Homo sapiens: one gene and its partners. The protein of the gene in region 1 interacts with the protein of each later gene in a pairwise test. Each region holds a gene or a part of one and is shown on either strand. Other genes may lie near its edges.

Region 1 (7,113 bases):
TGTTGGACACCACATATATAGAACATTTTCATCAACTAAGAAATTTCAGAGGACAATAAATTCGGATCTAGAAGGGAATATGATGTTTAGAATCAGCTTCCAAATGGACCTTCCAACTTAGAAATCAAGTTTTAAAAAATAAGATTTGCACAAGAGAAGAGATCCAATTCAAACCAACACAAATCTCAACAGAAAGAAGTGATATAGCCGGGCACAGTGGCTCACGCCTGTAATCTCAGCACTTTGGGAGGCCGAGGTGGGCGGATCACCTGAGGTCGGGAGTTCAAGACCAGCCTGACCAACATGGAGAAACCCCATTTCTACTAAAAATACAAAATTAGCTGGGTGTGGTGGCGCATGCCTGTAATCCCAGCTACTCAGGAGGCTGAGGCAGGAGAATCGCTTGAACCCGGGAGGCGGAGGTTGTGGTGAGCCGAGATCATGCCATTGCACTCCAGCCTGGGCAACAAGAGCAAAACTATGTCTCAAAAAGTCAAAACAAAAACAAACAAACAAACAAAAAGAAGTGATATAATACAGTGGTCCTCCCTTATCTGTGGTTTTTCTTTCCATGGTTTTAGTTAACTGCAGTCAACCATGGTCAAAAATATTAAATGAAAAATCCTAGAAATAATTCATAAGTTTTAAATTATGCACAATTCTGAATAGTGTGATGTAATTTCCCACTGTTCCACTCCATCCCATCCAAGACATGAATCATCCCTTTGTCCAGTGTATCCAGGATGTACATGCCACCTGCCCATTAGTCCCTTAGTAGCCATCTCAGTTATCAGGTCCACTAGCATAGTATTGCAATGCTTGTATTCAAGTAACCCTTATTTCATTTAATAATGGCTCCAAAGTATAAGAGTAGTGATGCTAAGCATACTGTTATAATTTTTCTGTTTTATTATTAATTATGGTTGTTAATCTCTTACTGTGCCTAATTTATAAATTAAACTTTATCATTGGTATGTTTAGAAAAAAAAAGTATATATAGGGTTTGATAGTATCTGTAGTTTCAGGCATCTGCTGGGGGTCTTGGAATGTATTCCCCTTGATTAAGTTGTGACTACTATATTGGTTGTTCAAGGTTGGTGAGGAGAGTACTTCTGTAAAATTGGTCCTGAACTGCTTTACAGCAACATTCTTAACTTTGAAAGCTAAAGATCTTTGATATTACTCTATCCAATCCCAGTTAGCAGTATATTTAATTCATTTTTCTTGATTATATAAGTTGCTATGAAACAATTAATGTAATGAGAAAAACAGATTACAGACTCTGCATTTTATATTTAAATATTTAAATCAATAAGCTGTTTAGACATTAACATAAAAATAAATTAAGGTTATTTACCATTTAGCAATTCAATGAGTGCAGGGATTATGCCAGATTTGGCTAGCAATGCAGCACAAGAGTCATCCATGGATACAGTTCCAATCATTATAACCACTTCTAAAACAAGATCATCTTCTGCAGCACCTAGTGAAGTCAAACCATAGAAAGTTTTCACTGAAATGTCCTGATCCAAATTCATTTAGAGTATCAAAATGTAAATACACAGAAAGGATACTGAAAGCTATTAAATCAAGTCATATGAATCCTTGATATGCTATAAATTTGTCCTTTTTCCAAATTTCCATGTTTGCTGATGACAGTTTGTGATAGTGGGGGCAGGGGGCAGTAGAAAAGTGGAAATGAGCCTTTGAGAGTACAACTGAATGACAACATAGACACAGAAAATAAAAGACTCATTTGAATGCCTCAAAGACCTTTGTGCGTGTTTATGTATATGCAGAGGGATGGTATTTGGTAATTTTAAAGAGACAGAATAAAAAAATACCAAAAGACCACAAGAAAGGTAGAATAGGAAATAGAAACTAACATAAGAAAACACACTTTTAGGAAAAAGAGAACATATATGTAAGAGGTGATCCAGTGACTACCTTTCTGGGAGAAGAGAGCTGTGAGAAGAAATGGCTTTTCCTAACATAATAATAGTCACACAATACTGCTCTAGCAGCCTTATCCATAACAGAAAGAAATAACTTAGTGATTATACAAAAGTGAAATACTTAGCACAAACCTGGTTTTAGTTTATCCTTGAGGTATGGAACCAACTTATATTCTTTAAGAACCAATTCCCAGTCTAAGTCTGGAATGGTCAAGTTTGCAAGAGTTCCCAAACATTCAATCACAAACTCCTCTTCTTCATCATTAGAGATCTGGGCTGCAAGGTCCCCAACATAATCCTGAATAAAACATAATTTTAATATAAATTTAAATTATTTTTTATTTAATCTAATAACCCACAGGAATCTAACAATTTAACTCATTGAAAGAAAAAGTAAATATCAAATGTGATTTTCTTGTTTTAATAATCTTGAGCTAAATTGCTAAAGAAGCCTATGGTGAACTGGTTTAAGGCAAGAAGACTGTAGTGGGGTGGAGGGATTAGGGGTAAGGGTCACAAAACAAAAACAACATTGAAACATAGGTTGAGATTTCTAGGTGCTAAACTAACAAAGTTGATAACATAAGAGCAATTTGGATTATAAATTAATATTTGACGAGACCTCAGTAAGAGCTGTATTTCCAAATGTAGCAATTTCAATTCCCAGTCTATTTGAATAGAAAGCCAAAATGATACTTACAATAAACAGATTTTTAGTTGGTCCATCATGCTGAGAAATGTTTCTAATCATTTTCATCAGCAATGGATCCTTAAACTTCAGAGCCCTCTTCATGAGCATCTTCAGCCCATTTCCTGAAACAGAAAAGTCCCCCAATAAAATTAAGGTTAGCTTAAGTTTAATAATTTTTTGTTTAGTTCTCAAAAAAGCCACAACAATTTACATCTAGTAAAATGCATAACTCTTAAGGGTACAATTTGATTAATTTAGATGCAACCCATACCATATATCAACATACAGAGTATTTTCATTCCCTCCAGAAAGTTCACTTGTGCCCCTTCCCAGTCAATCCTGTTTCCCAGATATAATCACTTTTCCTCTTCCCTGTCTCATTTTTAAACATATATAAATTTTGCCTGATATAGAACTTCATATAAATAGAATCATACCATATGTGCTCTTTTGTGCCTACAATATCTACTACAAATGTTAAAAACAAAAATACTTTTGACTCAGAAAAATTGTACTTCTGGGAATTTATCCTAACAATATAAAAATGAAAATGTGTAAAGATTCAGAGAATGGGTAATTACTATAGCACTGTTTGTAACGGAAAATAAGTGGCAATGAACTATATCCATAATAGTGAAGTAAACTATGGCAAAATTCTTTAATAGACAATTTTGCAGTTATTAACAAATATGCTTTATAAAAACACTTAATCACATAAAATATTATTTCAAGATATTACTAATTTTAAAAGAATGTATCATGATATATAGACAATCACATTTTTATTTAAAAATATGCAGAAGTATTACACTAAAATCTTACCTATGATTATCTGTGGATGGTAGGAAATAAAGATTTAAATCTTTTCCTTTTTGCTCATTTGTGCTTTTTATAACAAACACATACTACTTTTCAAATAAGGCAAAAACTATCGGGCAGACTCTGAAACATCATAATGTATGACAGGCTATTCTACAAAGATATTACAGAAATAATCTAATACATTTGTATTTTATTACCTTATATTGTAATAGACTGCTTTGCAAAGAAAAAGTTTCATTTTATCTAGAAAATGTTTTAAAAATCAAATTTCAATTAAGGCTAACTCACCATGGTTTGTAAAATGTTATCAGAAGGTAAGTGTCTGCATTTATGACGTAAGAATATTCTATCTGACCTTTAAGGATTATAGCTATAATGAAGAAATTATTTGAAAACAGGACTTACATAATCATTATAATTCTTAATTCCTTATATCTATTTTCCATCATATACCAAATACCATATGCTAAAAAAGTTACCTACACTCAAAGGCACTGACCTTCACAGATAAGCTGTACATTTCTTTTGTTAGCAGCAAGATTAATGCAGAAAGAAATGAGTTCCAAGTCAATTCGTTCATCTGAACATTCAAACAGCATCTTCATTAACTAGCAAGAAGCACAGGGCACATTTTACTCAAGAAACAAAGACAAAAAACCAAACACAGAAGCAATATTTTTATCATAATGTGTTATCTTAGATTGTACATTGGGCATAATATAATTATTTACATTTCAACACATAAAACTGGCAGGCGTTCACTGTTCAACAACTGGATGAATAAACAGTTAATGAACTCTTAGATGCTCAGCATTAAATATAAACTTCTAAGTACAGTGGAGAATATAAGAGAAATATTAGATAAAACATCTGTCCTTAAATAATTAAACATATTGTTTGGAAGCAGAGCATTCCAAGCAAAGAAAATAGCTTATGCAAAGGTCACAATGCAGGAAAAAACAGTACTCTTTGAAGAATTAAAAGCAAGCAAGCATTGTTGGTGAAAGGGAAACAACAGTTTTAAGAGATAAGAAGGTAAAAACCAGATCATGCAGGGTCTTGAAGTACATGTTAAAGATTTTGGCCTTCGTGCTAAGAAGGATAATGGGAAGCTGCTAAAAGCTTCTAAATAGGAAAGTGTCAGGATAAAATTTGTGTCTCAAAAAGATTTACCCAGTGTAGAAAATAGAATAAAATTGCAAGAAAATATGGGGAACCAGGTAGGATGCTAGAGGAAAAGTCCAAGTGAGAAGATGGGTGTCTGAACTAGGTAGAGATAAAAGGATTGATTAGACATATATTTAGAAAACAGAACCAAAATGGAATGTAGTAACTGACTAGATGTTATGGTTAAAGGAGTGGAGGAGTCAAAGATGACTTCTGGATTTATGCACTGAGAAATGACATACATGGTGCTGCCAACATCTACCGAAAAGGAGAAACTAGGGTAGAAAAAAACTTTAAAGGAAAGATAGTAATTTTGGTTTTAGATATGTTGAGTTTAAGCTGCTTATGTGATAGTCTAGTGCAGGTATTCAGTAGGAAGTCATAAACACAGGCCTGAGTTTAGAAGAAATGTCTGGACTAGAGGTATAATTTTAGGAACTGGCATATATGGTTGAAAACTGAAGCTGCAGGCTAAATCCAATCACTTGGGCATGGGTATAAAATGAGAAAAAAACATTTTTAGTGATAAGAGAAAAAGAAAGAGGGTCTGAAAAACAACAGACAAAAAGGTAAGAAGGAAAAGGTAGGCTACCTATGCCATTTAGCAGTAATCTAGATTTGTCATGGTGAGAAACAGCTGCTATAATAAAGGACAAATGAACAAATTTTATGCTATGTTTTGGAGAAGCTAGTCTTCTATTATTGTCAAATCAGCAAATTAACTTAGTGTATAGTACATAAAGAGAGTTTTTTCTCAGCCCAAATTGTTAACAACAAATAGAAGTTATTCCTAAAATTTATAATATAAAAACTTACTATGTTTTATCTCAGGGCAATACCTTTTTAGAACATGTTGGATTCATGCCTTCATGAATCCAACACAGCGAATAATAAATATTTATTTATTTTAGACCTCTTTCTGTTAAATCTTGTTTTGATTACTGTTAGTTCAAGATGACTTCTGCATTTCAAAAATGATATGTGGTCAATATACAAAAATCAATCACATTTCTATGTGTTAGCAATGAACAGCTGAAAACCAAAATTAAATTTGGTTAAATTAAATTAAATAAAAAACACAATACCACTCAAATTGTTAGGTATAATTCTAAGCAAATACACTGATCTGTATGCTGAAAATTACAAAACACTGTAGCAGGTGAACGGCTGGCATGTATCATATGCTCCCCTTGAGGGCAGATCTTTAACCACAAATATTACCACTGATAGTATCTCTGGGTAAGAATCATTAATACTTAATAATGCCACAGAATAAAAAAAGATTCAAGGGCAAAAGTAAAATAATCTTAATTTACTGGATATATATTTAACAGATTTCACTACCTATCTGCCCAATAAAAATTAAATTACAAATAAAATTGCCAATAAAAATTAAATTACAAATTACCAAAAATGTAGGTGACAATCCTCTAATTAATTGCTATGTTTTCTAAACTGTAATTAAAAACCTACCATAGATTTTTTTCAATCTGAGAATCGGTTACATTGAAGCAATGTTTCAAGCAAAGTATTTATTGCTAACAAAAAGTATTTACTTCAAATCAACCTTTGTAGTATGAAAATTAGCCTTAAACACAGGGCTACAGGTCATTATTTTAGAAGGTAAATTTTCTCTAAAGTAATTTCCATATTAAATTCTACCTAGAAATAAACAATCAGAAACTAGATTTTTAGAAAATAATGCATGGCTCGAAAACTTACTCAACTCCCATTCCCCATATCGAGCTAAATTAGGACTAAATATAAATGGAATGCATAATGATATAGAATTAGTTTTTCATAATAAGAGAGATAAACATTTCAATTTTAATTAAAGCTTTCAAATTTAAAAAAGCAATGTTTAGTTCAAACTCCACATGAAAGAGTATGTCTTTAATTTGATTGCTATGATGGCACTTCAAAAGTAAGTGTAATTGCTGACAACTAGAAAATATTAAAACTAGATTTGTTCTGTTTTAACTATGTCCATTGTCATCTTTTACTAATTTACCAGAAAAGCACTAAAAGGGCTTCAGTCTGTGCGATGAAGAGGCAATAGTGTTCAATCAGACAAGTCCCATATTGAGTATCAGATACCAAAGACCCATGACTGAAATCACTGTGTCTAGACTCTCTGGCACCTGACTTCACTTATTTACCACTGACCAGAGGCCAACCCCCACAGCTCTCTGTATTCACATATAACTCTACCACCCCCATCCCCTACCCAAACATCTTTGAATGATTATACCAGAACTTTGCATGCCTCCGGAATCTCTTCTGACTGGCTACTCCCTAACTCTCCTGTTTGAAGTGATGCTCTGGTTTCTGAACTTCAGCAGATAATGGCAGGCAAGAGCAAAGGGGGCTGTCAGAAAGGACGTTTACCAGCATTCAGCTAAAAAGAAGCATGTAGATCAAAGGGGGCCATATAGGACAACTGTGGTGGAAAACATGTGGATCACTATGAAGATTCTT
Region 2 (7,357 bases), on another chromosome or scaffold:
ATGAGTAGACTAATCAAATAGCACTTACTGAAATTATATACAGAATACACTATTTATGACTAGACTTTGCCATGAGAAGTTGCTGCCTTTCATACATGTAAGGGTAAGGTGACTAGATTAAGATGTTAAAGCCTGTAAACTGCCAGTAGCTCACCGACCCTTGAAATTCCTAAGGCGATACAAAGTCCTTTGATGGAAGAAATACTGTGGTATATTATTACAATTAAGTTGTTTCTAACATACCAATCCTTTAAAACTTAGTTTCAGTGGTTTCTTAGTATTAGCATAAGTGTGTATTAAGAAGTACAAGAGCTGGGCGCGGTGGCTCACGCCTGTAATCGCAGCACTTTGGGGGGCTGAGGCAGGCAGATCACAAGGTCAGGAGTTCGAGACCAGCCTGGCCAATATGCTGAAACTCTGTCTCTACTAAAAATACAAAAATTAGGCCGGGCACGGTGGCTCATGCCTGTAACCCCAGCACTTTGGGAGGCCGAGGCGGACGCATCACGAGGTCAGGAGATCAAGACCATCCTGGCTAACACAGTGAAACCCCGTCTCTACTAAAAATACAAAAAAATTAGCCAGGCGTGGTGGCAGGCGCCTGTAGTCCCAGCTACTCGGGAGGCTGAGGCAGCGGAATGGCGTGAACCCGGGAGGCGGAGCTTGCAGTGAGCCAAGACAGTGCCACGGCACTCCAGCCTCGGCGACAGAGCTAGACTCCATCTCAAAAAAAGAAAAAAAGATACAAAAATACAAAAATTAGCCAGGCGAGGTGGCGGGCGCCTGTAGTCCCAGTTACTTGGGAGGCTGAGGCAGGAGAATAGCTTGAACCCAGGACGTGGAGGTTGCAGTGAGCCGAGATCGCGCCACTGCACTCCAGCCTGGGCGACAGAACGAGACTCTGTCTCAAAAAAAAAAAAAAAAAGTACAGTAATTGTTTTGGCTCTTTAACTTTTCATGCTAATTTTCACACATTCGAAAGAGTAAATGGCATAAGGAACCCCCTAAGTACCCATTTCCCAACCCAACAATTATCATTGCCATTCTTATTTCATTTTCCCTCTTTCAATCTTTTTCTTCTTTTTTTGCTGGATTATTTTAAAGGAAATCCTAGGCATCCTATTATTTCAGCTATAATTATTTCTGTATGTATCTTTAACAGATAAGGACTTTCTAAACATAATACAATACCATTTAGCTCCTCTAATAAAATTATTAGTAATTCCTTAATATAGTCCCCGTTCAAATTTTGCCTGATTATCTCAAAAATGTCTTATACATGGTTTGTTTGAATCAGTATCCAAACAATGTCCATAGCAGTTGAGTTTAATGTATCTGTAAAGTTTAACAGAAAATGCTTCATCTTTTTTTGTGTGTGTGCCATTTATTTGTTGAAGAAACCAGGTCATTTGTTTTGTAAAAACCTCTCATTCTGGATTTGGCTGTTTGCATCATGGTATAGTTTAACAAGTCCCTCTATTTTCTGTAAAATGGTAGTCAGATCTCATAATTTTCTTTTGGAAAGAATATTTCATAGGTAGTACTGTGCACTTCCTGTTGCATAAGGAGACACATATTTGTCTCCACGTTTAGTGAAGACTGACTACACTGACTTCAAGTGTTGTCAGTCTGATCCATCATTACAAAGTGCTCCAACTTTTACCTAATGCTATTAGCCATTGATGACTCTTGGCTGGGTCCATTATTTCATCAAGAGTTGGAAAATGATGATTTTATATTTCTATCATTATTACTAACTGGAATTCCATAAAGAAAAAAATGCCTTTCATCAACTACGTGGTTACCCTGAAATACAACTCATGCCCAAAAAGCAGGATAAATGCTTGTTTCTTCATTGAAATTAATCTACTTTCAGCATGAGCTGGTATCCTATTTAACTTCCAATAGCGTGTAATGAGTCTCCCTCAACTCACTCTAACTTCTCCCTAAGGTCACCAGGTGGTTTTTACCGTAAAATCTCGCAGGGCCAGAATGGGGTAAGACAGGATGGAATTGGGCAGGCCAAGGCAGGATGCAGGGATTTAGGAGAAGGGGGTACTGGGTCAGGGAAGACAGAATACCTTAAGCATGCTCTAGGAGGTGGAATCCGAGCTTTCTGAGCTGTCCTGGACGTTGGTGCTCTCCACAGACTCCTTAGGTTCTTTGCTGTCACTGCCACTTTCTTCGGTAGCCGGGTTCTTTTGCTGACAGGCCTCTTCAGAATCAGAAAGTGTGCTGCCCTGGGTCTCCTGGTTCTCCCTGGAGCCCAGGACCACATACCCGCCCTTCTTCAGGTCCATTTGTCGTCTCAGCTCATCTGCCATCTGCGAGAGATCCCGCTTCATAGCATAAGCATCTTCCCCATCTGCATAGTATTTAGGTTCCACCTCACTAATCTGAAAGTTGAGGGTGTTAGAATAAAGGTGCAAGGCTGGCCGGTTACTCTTCCTGACGTGCAGAGACACGTATTTGGCGTTAAAGTTCTCTATCATGGCCCTGGAGGCCTGGTCCATCAGCTTCTGGGCCAGGCCGAGGCGCCGGTGTGAACGCTTCACGGCCAGTGAGGTGATATGGCCATGCGGGACATCATCTGGTTCCTCCTCCATTTTGGCCAGAACATAGCCCACAATCTTCCCGTCCTCATCCTCAGCGATGTAAGAAAGCTGGGGCCAGGAAAGGCCATGATATAAATAGTATTTCATCTGGTAGTTCTCAGGAAGGCAAAGGAGGTTGCAGTGTTGCATATTCATCAGGTCGTCTGGCTGAGCGTTGCGGATGTTCATAATGGCAGAGGGTAGGGAACCGGTTGGACTGCAGTGAACCCAGAAGAGGCTGTCGCCGACCTTAAGGGGCACTGTTTGCCTCAGGAATCGAGTCCAGGGGGCTAACACCACCGGGCTGAATCGTGTGGAGGGCGGATGGCGGGAAGGCGGAAGGAGCAGGAGATGGAAAAGATGGTGCCAAACTGCGGCTTTCAGAAGTGCGTCACTGATCCCAGCCAATGAGGTTTCGCTTCATTGTGCGTGTGCGTGCGCAGGGGTTAGGGGGTGGGGAGAGAGGAGTTCATTGTGGTCGCCTTTGTTTTAAATAACGCGATCCATTGCAATTATTATTTTTGTTTCAGTTTTAACTTTTTGATTTGGGTACATCTGAATAAATTTTCACAAACTGGAGAAACCCATATAACAGGAACTTAGAGAAAATAAAGAACATTGTATCCCAGAACCCCCCCTCCTGTCCCCTTCCAGTACCTGCTTCCAACATCCCAAGAATAACGATTACCTAGACTTCCGACAGACTTTATATAAATGGAATCATAGTGCATGCATTATTTTTGTGTCAGGTTTTTTCAGTCACTCTTTGTAAGTTTCAGCCACCTCGTGTATAGCTGAGGGTTCTTTATATTCTTCCTTGTTTGATATTCTATTGCCTAAATATGTCACAATTTTTTTTATCAATTCTACTGTTACTGGCCATTTTGTCATTTTCAGTTTGGGAATAGTACCCCTAGGGTAGCTGAACATTCTAGACTTGTCTTTAGTTGGAACAAATGCATATTTATCTAGGATTAGAATTATTGGGTCATTGAATATAATGATGTTCAACTTTTATAAATACTGCCACTTTTTCAGAGTGGTTGCTCCACCTTCTCAACAGCATTTGCTATTTCCCCATTGTTTTTATTTTAGCCATTCTTTTGTAGGGGTAGAAGTATTACACTGTGGTTGTATTTGCATTGCACTGATGAGTAGTAAAGTTGAGCACTTTATATGCTTATTAGCCATACTGTGTTCTCTTTTGTAAATGGCTGCTCAGATTTTTTTGCTCATTTTTCTACTTGTGTGTCTTTTTCACATTAATTTTTGAGTTTTATCAAAAATATATTCTGGGTATAAGTCCTTTGTCAGATATATTTGTAATGAATATCATTCTTGTCTATTGATTGATATTTCCCTTTCTTAATGGTGATTTTTGACACCAAGCATGAATTTTAATATAGTTCAATTTTTCCAGTTTTAAAATTTGGTGGTTAATGCTTTTTGTGTTCTGTTTAATAAATCGTTGCATACTCCATGGTGACTGAAGGCATTCTTTTATATTTTCTTCTAAGATTGTTAGTTTTACATTTTATATTTAGATCTGCAATTGACTGAAATTTAGTTTTGTGTATGCTGTAAGGTATCAGTGGACCCAATATTCTTTTCCTGTGTGGATGTACAATTCATATAGCACCATTTACACCATTTTGTGAAAAAAGATTATTATCCTTTCTTCATATTACTGCATTGTTACCTTTGTCATAAATCCTAAGTTTTATTTGTAGATGCATTTAAAAATTTTAATGTCATCTTAGCTGGGTGTGGTTATTCATGCCTGTAGTCTCAGCTACTTGGGAGGCTGAGGCAGGAGGATCACTTGAGGCCAGGAGTTTAAGGCTGTAGTGAACTATGATTGCATGACTGCACCCCAGCCTGGGTGACAGAACAAGAAGAAGAATAAGTAAATAATCATATGCCATCTCGATAAAGCAAGATTTGGGGTATTTAATAGTGCAAGGAAGTCACATTTTATTAGCACTACTTGCACAAATGGAATTATCTGTGTGTCTCGTACAGTCTTTCTTCCCAGTTTCCTAGCAGACCTCAGAACTCAAGTACCAAAATGAATTATGTTGTAATTAGCCAGGTCATGGATACCCTCTTAACTCATCTAGAATATGTGTGCAGCTTTCTTTCCAATGAGGGTACGCACTCCTTTAATAGCTAGAGTAACCTAGAGCCATGTGATCTGTGAAACATAGCTTGAATAGCCACTATTTTTGTTGTATTTTGACAATTGGCAGTATCTATTAATATATTTTTAAGATTTAACGTAAGCATTTTAGCTCCCTGATTTTTTGATAGGCTGTATACATTGGAAAAGTTATTCACCAGTATTATTTCCGTTCAGAAATTTCTTTCATGTTGTGCCTGACACCATGGATGGGGATCTATAATTTGTAGTGATGTAGCTCTAAAAGCATGATCCAGAAGAGTCATTTTGTTGATTCTTCTGTAGTGGGTTCTTCTTTTAAAAAGCATAGACTATTGAAACTTGAGTGCACTGTATTCTTTGACAGGGTTAATTTAAATGCAGCCAGGTTCATTACAGATACTATATCCTTCAACATAGAATAGTGCTGACTTAATGCTCAAGAGTTGGGCAGTATACTTGACTTATTCCAGAGTAGGCATGGTACCAAAACCAACAGTAATAAGCATGGTTTTTAATATACAATAATGTGATCTTTATTCATATAAAATCGTAGAAGGAATATGATGACAACTCCACTGTCATGGAAGAATGGTCTACCAGTTGCAATGACCACAGTAGCTAAGACAAAAAATGCAAAAACTGGTTATATTCTGATAGGCTGTCTTCTTTTTTGACAGAGAAGTTGCTATCATATATCCTCAGCATTTGCATATTCATTTCAGCTGCAGTGGAAAGCATGGATCCAAAACTAAAACTCTGACCCTTAAGGTGGTGTTGGTAGTAAGTAGTACTTAATTTGGCCCCTCCTACTGAGGTCAAGTATAAATGTTCTCTCATGAATTACAATGTGCCTCTAATTTCTGGACTATCGATCTAGCATGTCTTGTCAAGTTTTGTATGTGGTATGTTTTTATCATAAGTAAAGGGCATTGGCAATCTTCATTAATATTTTGCAAAAATTTAGCAAAAAGTCATCTAATACATAAATGTTTTGTAAATGAGAGCTCCTGGAGTTCTAGTCAGGTATTATGTCATATCTATAATATTTCATGTGGAAAAAGCTCCCATCTTCCTAACTGGCTTTATATCTCATGCCTATAGGATCTAAGGGCAAGACATATGATTATTTGAGCCTGGGTTCTGCACAAATCTTAGTCAAGTTATTTTTTAACCTTATGTTTCTACATCTTATCTGTCTTTTGTATGAATTCTACATACCACTGTGGTGCTATGGATGAATAAATAATTTCTATATACACTTCCTTTACAATATGACTTGCAAACTAATTTTCTTCTTACTAGTAAAAAACAAGTTTATTCCAAATATTATAAAGAGTTTTTAAATAGCTTTTTATTGCCCCCCTCACCCTGAGTAATTTTATCAGGTTTACTGTAAGAATATATTATGTACCTGAAAAAAATATATAACATTTCCTAAACACTTTCATTTGAACAACTTTTCTTCATATGTGTGAATAAACAAACCTAATACTCATAAATGACCCTAGGAATGATGGGTTAGCCATCCTTTGTGTCTTTACTGGACTTCCTAAAATGTAGGCCTGACAAATGGGGAAAACATAACAAAATAGACCAATTTGGAAGAATTAGAAGCATATCAACTATCTGTTATTTTTACTGTCATCTCCTTTGTCTGCCTTTCTTATTCCATGAGCCATTAAAGCAAGATGAGTATTTGTGGGTTCAAAGAAGTTTGGAAAGAAAAGGCACCCTATTAATCAGTAAGGCTTTGTTTGTTTGTTGGCTTGATTCTGTTTAATCCTGAATCTGAGGTCTAATCTTAAAGAAAGTCAAACACAGAAATAGTTTTCAGGCTCGGTACAGTGGTTCACACCTGCATTCCCAGCACTTTGAGAGGCCAAGGCAGGAAGATCGCTTGAGCTCAGGAATTTGTGACCAACATGGGCAACGTGTCAGGGCCATGTCCCTGCAAATGTTAAAAAAAAAAAATTAGCCAAGCATAGTGGTGCACACCTGTGATCTCAGCTACTCAGGAGGCTGATGTGGGAGGATCACTTGAGCCCAGCAGGTGGAGACTGCAGTGAGCCGTGATTGCACCACTGCACTCCAGTCTGAGCAACAGAGAAAGACTGTCTCAAAAAAAAAAAAAAAAAAAAAAGAGAGAGTGAGAGTTTTCAGAGGCAACTGGTTGAACCCAGAAAGGGAAAATGGCCATTACTTTGGCTCCAGTGAGAGTCAAACATTTTCTTGCTGAAGATGTTTGGAGAGCAACACCATTTATAACAGCTGTATTATAAAGGAATTATATAACATATAAAAAGATTATCAATAAAAGGACAAACAGACAGTTTTAATACCTACTGAGAGGATAAATTCTCATTGTTTTCTCCATTGTCTATAATCATAAACAATATCAGAGATTATAAATTCAGTCATATAGATAACAAAATATTTTCTACATTCTCGTGTTACTGCATATTCCAAAACAACTTTTTTTTCTCATGATGCCACTGTCAGGGCATGTCTATATAAATATGAGATGATAATTTTGAAAAAAAAGTTTAGAAGTTAATATTGGGTTTGAATAGTGGACAGTGATGATAGGGAACTTCCCTTCCAT
Region 3 (7,113 bases), on another chromosome or scaffold:
CTGGGTGACAGAGCAAGATTCCATCGCAAAAAAAAAAAGCTAACATGTGACCACGATGTGCCAGAGCTGGTGCTGTGTCTGGGGAACTGATGCTTATGCCCCAGCACCTCTGAAATGTTGGGTAAATGGAGGCAGGGCCACCCAGCATGCTCCTGTTGAAGGCTGGGACTCCTCAGCCCTTCCTCACCTCTGCTGATTGACAGCACGCCCCACACCCCCAGGTTTTTTGTAGCCAGTGCTATCTGGTCAAAGGGTCAGTGGGCCTCTTATGGCCAGGGCTTCCTCCCGGGGTGATGGGTCTGCTCTGTGCCAGAAACAGAGGACACAGCGCCTCCACAGCACTGCTTCCCCACTCATCCTACCCTAAGGAGCGCCTCATCTGCCATCATTCATTCATTGGTTCATTCCACCAGTAATTCTTAAGTGCCTACTCTTACTAGGCACTGCCTCAGCTCTGGGATTACAGAAGTGAACAAGGCAAGATTTCTCCCTCCCCCAGCTATGGAATTTATATTCCGGTGAACAGGAATAAATGATGGATAGATGGATACCAAAATTTCAGAGAGTATCAGGGGCTCTCAGTGGACTAAGGCAAAGGCTGGAGCAGAGGGTTCTCTTTATTTAGATCGGGTGGTCAGGGAAGGCAACATTTGAGCAGAGACCTGAACAAAGGGGACCCAGCTTTACAAAGATCTGGGGAAGGGGAACAGTGGGGCACATGCCCTGAGGTGGGAGTGAGTGTGTCTCACTGGAGAACAGCAAGACCAGAACAGCAGGCATTGAGGCAGAGATGGGAGGAAGTAGGATCAGAAAGGCTGGCAGGAGCCAGATCACATAGGACCTTGGGGGCCATGGTGAGGACTTGGGGTATTTTATTTGATGTAGTGGAAGCCATTAGAGGATTTGAAGCAGGGAGTGACATGATTACATAAAGATTTTGAAGGGGGACTGACTTAGGCCCAGCCTGGGAAATACAGAAATAAAGCATAAAACCATGAGATGTTCCCTCTGTCACAGGGTTTCGATACAAACAGGAGAGGTGGGGACCTAAGAAGGGAAAACTTCTGCAGAGGTGGAGTTACAGACTAGGAATTTACAGTGGGGGCTTCCAGGAGGAGGTAACACTGAAGCCCGCCCGGCCTTTTTTTTTTTTTTTTTTTTTTTTTTTTTTTTTTTTTGAGACAGAGTCATCTCACTCTGTGACCCAGGCTGGAGTGCAGTAGTGTGATCACAGCTCACTGAACCTTCCGCCTCCCGGGTTCAAGTGATCCTTCCACCTCAACTTTCCAAGTAGGCAGGGCTACAGGCGTGCGCCACCAAGCCTGGCTAATTTTTGTATTTCTAGTAGAGACGGTGGTCTTGCCATGTTGGCCAGGCTGGTCTTGAACTCCTGACCTCAGGTGATCCGCCTGCCTTAGCCTCCCAAAGTGCTAGGATTACAGGCATGAGCCACCGCGTCCAATCTGAAGCTGGGCTTTAAAGGATGGGCAGGATTATCAATTGTGTGACCCTGGGTGATTTGCCAATCTCTGCCACCTTCAGTTCCTTCATCTGCCAAATGGGCATGATAGTAGAACTACCTTACTATTATTATTATGACTGGGAAGTAGCCAGGAATGGCAAAAAGAAAAGTGGAGAAATTCGGAACAATTATGGCAATATCACACACTAATAATAACAGCTAACACTTTTAAAGGCCCTATTGCTTCAGGCAATAAATTTTTACTATAACGCTAGAAGGTAAATTCTGTTACGAGCCCCATTTCATAGAGGAGAAGTCTCGGTGTGAAGATTAAAGTAAACTGTACAGGGTTATGCACCTAGGAAGAAGCAGGGCTGAGACTCAAACCCAGGCAGCACACTGTATACTTTGGAGCCTCTATGTGATAGAAGGTAGTAAAATATCTCAGCAGTTAAGAGATTGAGCTCTGATGACAAAACTAATTCAAGCCTTTGTCCTGCCATTTTCTAACCATGTGACCTCTTGGCCAAGTGACTTCTGAGCCTCTGTTAGCTAGTCAAGAAAAATGGGTTGTGGCTGGGTGCAGTGGTTTACTCTTGTAGTCCCAGCAATTTGGGAGTCCAAGGCTGGAGGATTGTTTAAGCCCAGAAGTTTGAAGCTACAGCAAGCCATAATCACACCACTGCACTCCAGTCTGAGTGACAGAAAAAGACCCTGTCTCTTTATTTATTTATTTATTTCATTGAGATGGAGTCTCGCTCTGTCATCCAGGTTGAAGTGCAGTGGCACGATCTCGGCTCACTGCAACCTCTGCCTCCTGGGTTCAAGTGATCCTCTCACCAAAGCCTCTCAAATAGCTGGGACTCCAGGCACCCGCCACCACACCCAGCTAATTTTTGTATTTTTAGTAGAGACAGGGTTTCACTATGTTGGCCAGGCTGGTCTCGGTCTCCTGACCTCAAGTGATCCACCTACCTTGGCCTCCCAAAGTGCTGGGATTACAGGCATGAGCCACTGCTCCTGGCCAACCCTGTCTCTTTAAAAAAATAAAAAAGGGCTCGGGGTGGGGGTCATTCATGAGTCAATTCCTATAGAGAGCTTAGCACAGTACAAACACTAGCCATGATCCTCATGGCTGTTAGTGACAACCCGGGTAGAAAGTAAGCTAGAACCATCCAGTATGTTTAGGGAATACTTCAGTCAGATTTTGTCACGATCATGCTGTGTAATAAGCTACCCCCAAAACTCGGCATCTTAAAACAGCCATTGTGTATTACTGCTCCTGCATTTGCGGACCAGCTGGAGGGTAAACTGATGGAGGCTGGGCTCAGCTGGAGAGGCTTTGCTCCAAGTAGCTCTCATCTTCTTGGACAAGCAGGCTAGCTGAGGCATGTTGTCATGGTGATGACACAAGTGCAAGAGGGCCAGCAGACATGCAAGGCCTGGGCTTGGAATTGGCACCCTGTCATTCTTAGCCAAAGCAAGTCATACGGCTGAGCCAGAGTCAGGGTGCACTCTGCCTTTGTTTTTGTTTTTGTTTTTGTTTTCTCGGAGACAGAGTCTCGCTCTGTCACCCAGGCTGGAGTTCAATGGCGCAATCTCAGCTCACTGCCACCTCCACCTCCCAGGTTCAAGTGATTCTCATGCCTCAGCCTTCCAAGTAGCTGGGATTACAGGTGAGCACCATGATGCTCGGCTAATTTTTGTATTTTTAGTAGAGATGAGGTTTCACCATGTTGGCCAGGCTGGTCTCGAACTCCTGACCTCAAGTGATCCGCCTGCCTTAGCCTCCCAAAGTGCTGGGATTACAGGTGTGAGCCACCGTGCCTGGCCATACTCTGCCTCTTTAGCAGAAAGAATGGCAAAGTCTCATGGCAGAGTGTGGACACAGGAAGGGGTAGAATTGGGACCCTGACTGCAGTGTGCCACGGGGGTGATAGACACGAGGGGGAAGCCACGTTCCTCCCTTCTGCCCCAGGTTTGCACTTCCTGCTTCCAGGGTAGCTGGGAACTCAAGGCCTGGAGGACTAAGGCCTTGGCTGTTGTTTCTTTTTTTTGAGACGAGGTCTCACTCTATTGCCCAGGCTGGAGTGCAATGGCAAGACCATGGCTCACTGCAGCCTCAACCTCCCAGCCTCAAGTGATCCTCCCAACTTAGCCTCCCAAGTGGCTGGGACTGTAGGCATGCACCACCACACCCAGGTATTTTTAAAAAGTTTTTGTAGAGATGAGGTCTTGCCATGTTGCACAGGCTGGTCTCGAACTCCTGGGCTCAAGTGACCCGCTTCAGCCTTGGCTGTTGGTTCTTGACCATTCATGGAGCTCCCCAAAGCCCAGGACAGAATCAGGAGGGCAGAGGACACAGGAGGAGCTCCCTACTCCCTCATGGGAGCCTGGGACAGGGATTAGACCTGGGCGGAGGGGCTCATGGATGTTCCAGGCCAGGAAAGGACCTGCCACAGAGCGGGGCAGCCTGAGGCAGTGAGAGGAAAGACGTGTTTCTAGCTGAGGCAGCGGGCCAGAACACTTGGGTCTGCGGCGTGGCAGGTCTGGGGTGACCCACCTTTCTTCCCACCCCACAGTCCTGATCCTGGAGGCCATCGAGAACCACAACCTCGCAGACACGGTGCTCAAGATCACGGACTTCGGCCTCGCCCGCGAGTGGCACAAGACCACCAAGATGAGCGCTGCGGGGACCTACGCCTGGATGGCGCCGGAGGTTATCCGTCTCTCCCTCTTCTCCAAAAGCAGTGATGTCTGGAGGTGCTGAAAGGCGCGGCCGGGATGGCCTCTGGGGAGTAAGGGAGGGAGGAAGGGGTGAGGGCAGAGTGGGAGGGAGGGTCTCCTGCTGAAGCCAGGATCTCAGTCTGACAAAGGGACCTGCTGGCAAGGTCAGGCCACCAGACAAGTGCCAGTTACCTGTTCAGCTAGCACAAATGGCAACTAGGGGGCACACTGGATTAGAATAAAAAGCTCATAGGATCTAGAGACAAGGCCGGGCGCGGGGGCGCACACCTGTAATCCCAGCACTTTGGGAGGCCGAGGTGGGCGGATCACTTGAGGTCAGGAGTTTGAGACCAGCCTGACCAACATGGTGAAACCCCATCTCTACTAAAAATACTAAAATTACCTGGGCGTGGTGGCAGATGCCTGTTGTCCCAGCTACTCGGGAGACTGAGGCAGGAGAATCACTTGAGGCCGGGAGGCAGAGATTGCAGTGGGCTGGGATTGGCCACTGCACTCCAGCCTGGGTGACAGAGCGAGACTCTGTCTCCAAAAAAAGAAAAAATTTAAAAAAGCATAGAGACAGCACATGGATGCTAGCACTGAAAGCCCCCTCAGACACTAGCCCATGCACTGTCCCATCTGTCAGACAGGAAAATGATTAATTCACTCATTCATTCCTTCATCTAACTGCACCGGGTTCTAGGGATATAGCAGAGAAGAAAAATACATGCAATCCCTGCCCTCAGGAATAGTAAGTCAGTCAACATACAAGAAGCTCTTTTTTATAAAGCTGTTTTTTAAGAAAATTATAATTTTTAAAGACAAGTACACCAGAAAAAAGTGTTAGTACAAAGTGCGAGGAGGCTGAGAGGAAGGCACTTTAAGGGCTGGAAGACTACTTTTGGGAACGCTTCTCTGAGCAATCTGAGAAATGATACTTCATCTGAGTTCCAAGTGGCAAAAAGGAACCAGTCACGAAAAGTTTGGAGGAAGAAGGAGGTGCTGAGGTGAGCATGGTGTGTCCCAGAAACAGCAAAGAGGCCCATGTGGCTGCCACTGTGCAGGCAAGGAAGAGAGAGGTAGGAAATTATGTAGGAGAGGGAGCTGGAAGGCCCTGTGGGTGAGGGAGTGGCCTTCAGGTTTTATTCTAATGAAGTAGGAAGCCATGAGGAGCCATGTCTGAATAGAGTGGTAGCTCACACCTATAATCCCAGTACTTTGGGAGGCCAAGGTGGGAGGATCACTTGAGGCCAGGAATTTGAGACCAGCCTGGTCAATGTAGTGAGACCCCATGTATATGAAAAAGAAATTTTTAAATTAATTTTTATAAAAGGAAGTAAATAAAAACTCCTTTGGAGGCCGGGTGCGGTGGCTCACGCCTGTAATCCCAGCACTTTGGGAGGCCCAGGTGGGTGAATCCCTTGACACCAGGAGTTTGAGACCAGCCTGGCCAACATGGTGAAATCCCACCTCTACTAAAAATACAAAAATTCGGCCAGGCGCGGTGGCTCACGCCTGTAATCCTGGCACTTTGGGAGGCCGAGGTGGGTGGTTCACTTGAGGCCAGGAGTTCATTCAGGACTAGCCTGGCCAACATGGTGAAACCCCATCTCTACTAAAAATACAAAAATTAGCCAGGCATGGTGGTGGGTGCCTGTAGTCCTAGCTACTCAGGAGGCTGAGGCAGGGGAATTGCTTGACTGCAGGAGGCAGAGGTTGAGATGGCGCCGTTGCACTCCAGCCTGGGTGACAGAGCAAGACTCCATCTGAAAAAAAATACTTAAAAATAAAAGCTCCTTTGACTGTTAGGTAGAGACAGCCAATGATGGGTCTGTTGCTGTCACCAGTGAGAGTTGATGGTGGCCATGGAGACTTTCAACCCAGGACCTTCTGCTTGGTTGGAGCCAAACCTGGGTCTCCCCATTTACTGTTCCCGTCAATTCCCAGCTGAGGCTCCAGATTGTCCAAGCAGCAAATTAATGGGTATGGGACTGAGACAGATCAGACAGGAAGTCTCCAGCTCAGCCTAGAGCAGAGCAGCCCTTTGGGAGAATTTCCAACTGGCTGTACATCAGGCGTTCATTTGTGCTACCTTTTTTTTTTTTTTTTTTTTTTTTGGGACAGAGTCTCACTCTGCCGCCCAGGCTGGAGTGCAATGGCACAATCTCAGCTCACTGCACCCTCCTCCTCCCAGATTCAAGTGATTCTTGTGCCTCAGCCTCCCGAGTAGCTGAGATTATAGGCATGCACTGGCTAATTTTTATATTTTTAGTGGAGACAGGGTTTCACCATGTTGGCTAGGCTGGTCTTGAAGTCCTGACCTCAGGTGATCCGCCCGCCTCAGCCTCCTAGAGTGCTGGGATTACAGGCATGAGTCACTGCACCCGGCCGGGCAGGCTAATTCTTTCTGATGTGGTCCTGTCCTGTACTTAGCAGGATGCAGGATATCCACACCTCCCCGCCATAAACTTCAGTAACATTCTCAGTCATTATTACAATCACAGTAACCCCATAGGTTTCCAAGGACATGGGAGAGAGGGGTGGATCATGCTACCCTCCAGTTATAAACCACTGTTTCTCCCCCACCTTGTATGGTCTCCATTCTGAAGTTTACTTCATGATCCAAAATGACTGCTTGAGCTCCAGCGTTTTTTGTTTTTTTTTTTTTTTTGAGCTGGAGTCTTGCTCTGTCGCCCAGGCCGGAGTACAGCGGCGCGATCTTGGCTCACTGAAACCTCTGCCTCCTGGGTTCAAGCAATTATCCTGCCTCAGCCTCCCAAGTAGCTGGGACTACAGGCACATGCCACCAGGCCCAGCTAATTTTTGTATTATTTATTTATTTTTTTTAATTTTTCAGTAGAGACGGGGTTTCACCATATTGGCCAGGACAGCCTTGATCTCTTGACCTCATGATCTGCCCACCT

Evidence for each region.
Region 2: the proteins of KIFAP3 (region 1) and NAA11 interact in binary tests that used the Homo sapiens proteins (3 or more experiments, as listed by UniProt).
Region 3: the proteins of KIFAP3 (region 1) and MAP3K10 interact in a two-hybrid assay, tested with the Homo sapiens proteins (one study listed by BioGRID).

Annotation. Positions count from the first base shown.
Region 1 is NC_000001.11:169,980,615-169,987,727, forward strand, and holds part of KIFAP3 (kinesin-associated protein 3), read right to left. Parts: intron 4,077-7,113; coding exon 3,968-4,076; intron 2,769-3,967; coding exon 2,656-2,768; intron 2,254-2,655; coding exon 2,088-2,253; intron 1,484-2,087; coding exon 1,358-1,483; intron 1-1,357. UniProt on the Homo sapiens protein: Involved in tethering the chromosomes to the spindle pole and in chromosome movement. Binds to the tail domain of the KIF3A/KIF3B heterodimer to form a heterotrimeric KIF3 complex and may regulate the membrane binding of this complex.
Region 2 is NC_000004.12:79,323,095-79,330,451, forward strand, and holds the start of NAA11 (N-alpha-acetyltransferase 11), read right to left. Parts: upstream 2,968-7,357; 5' UTR 2,784-2,967; coding exon 2,094-2,783; 3' UTR 2,082-2,093; intron 1-2,081.
Region 3 is NC_000019.10:40,194,331-40,201,443, forward strand, and holds part of MAP3K10 (mitogen-activated protein kinase kinase kinase 10), read left to right. Parts: intron 1-4,044; coding exon 4,045-4,225; intron 4,226-7,113. UniProt on the Homo sapiens protein: Activates the JUN N-terminal pathway.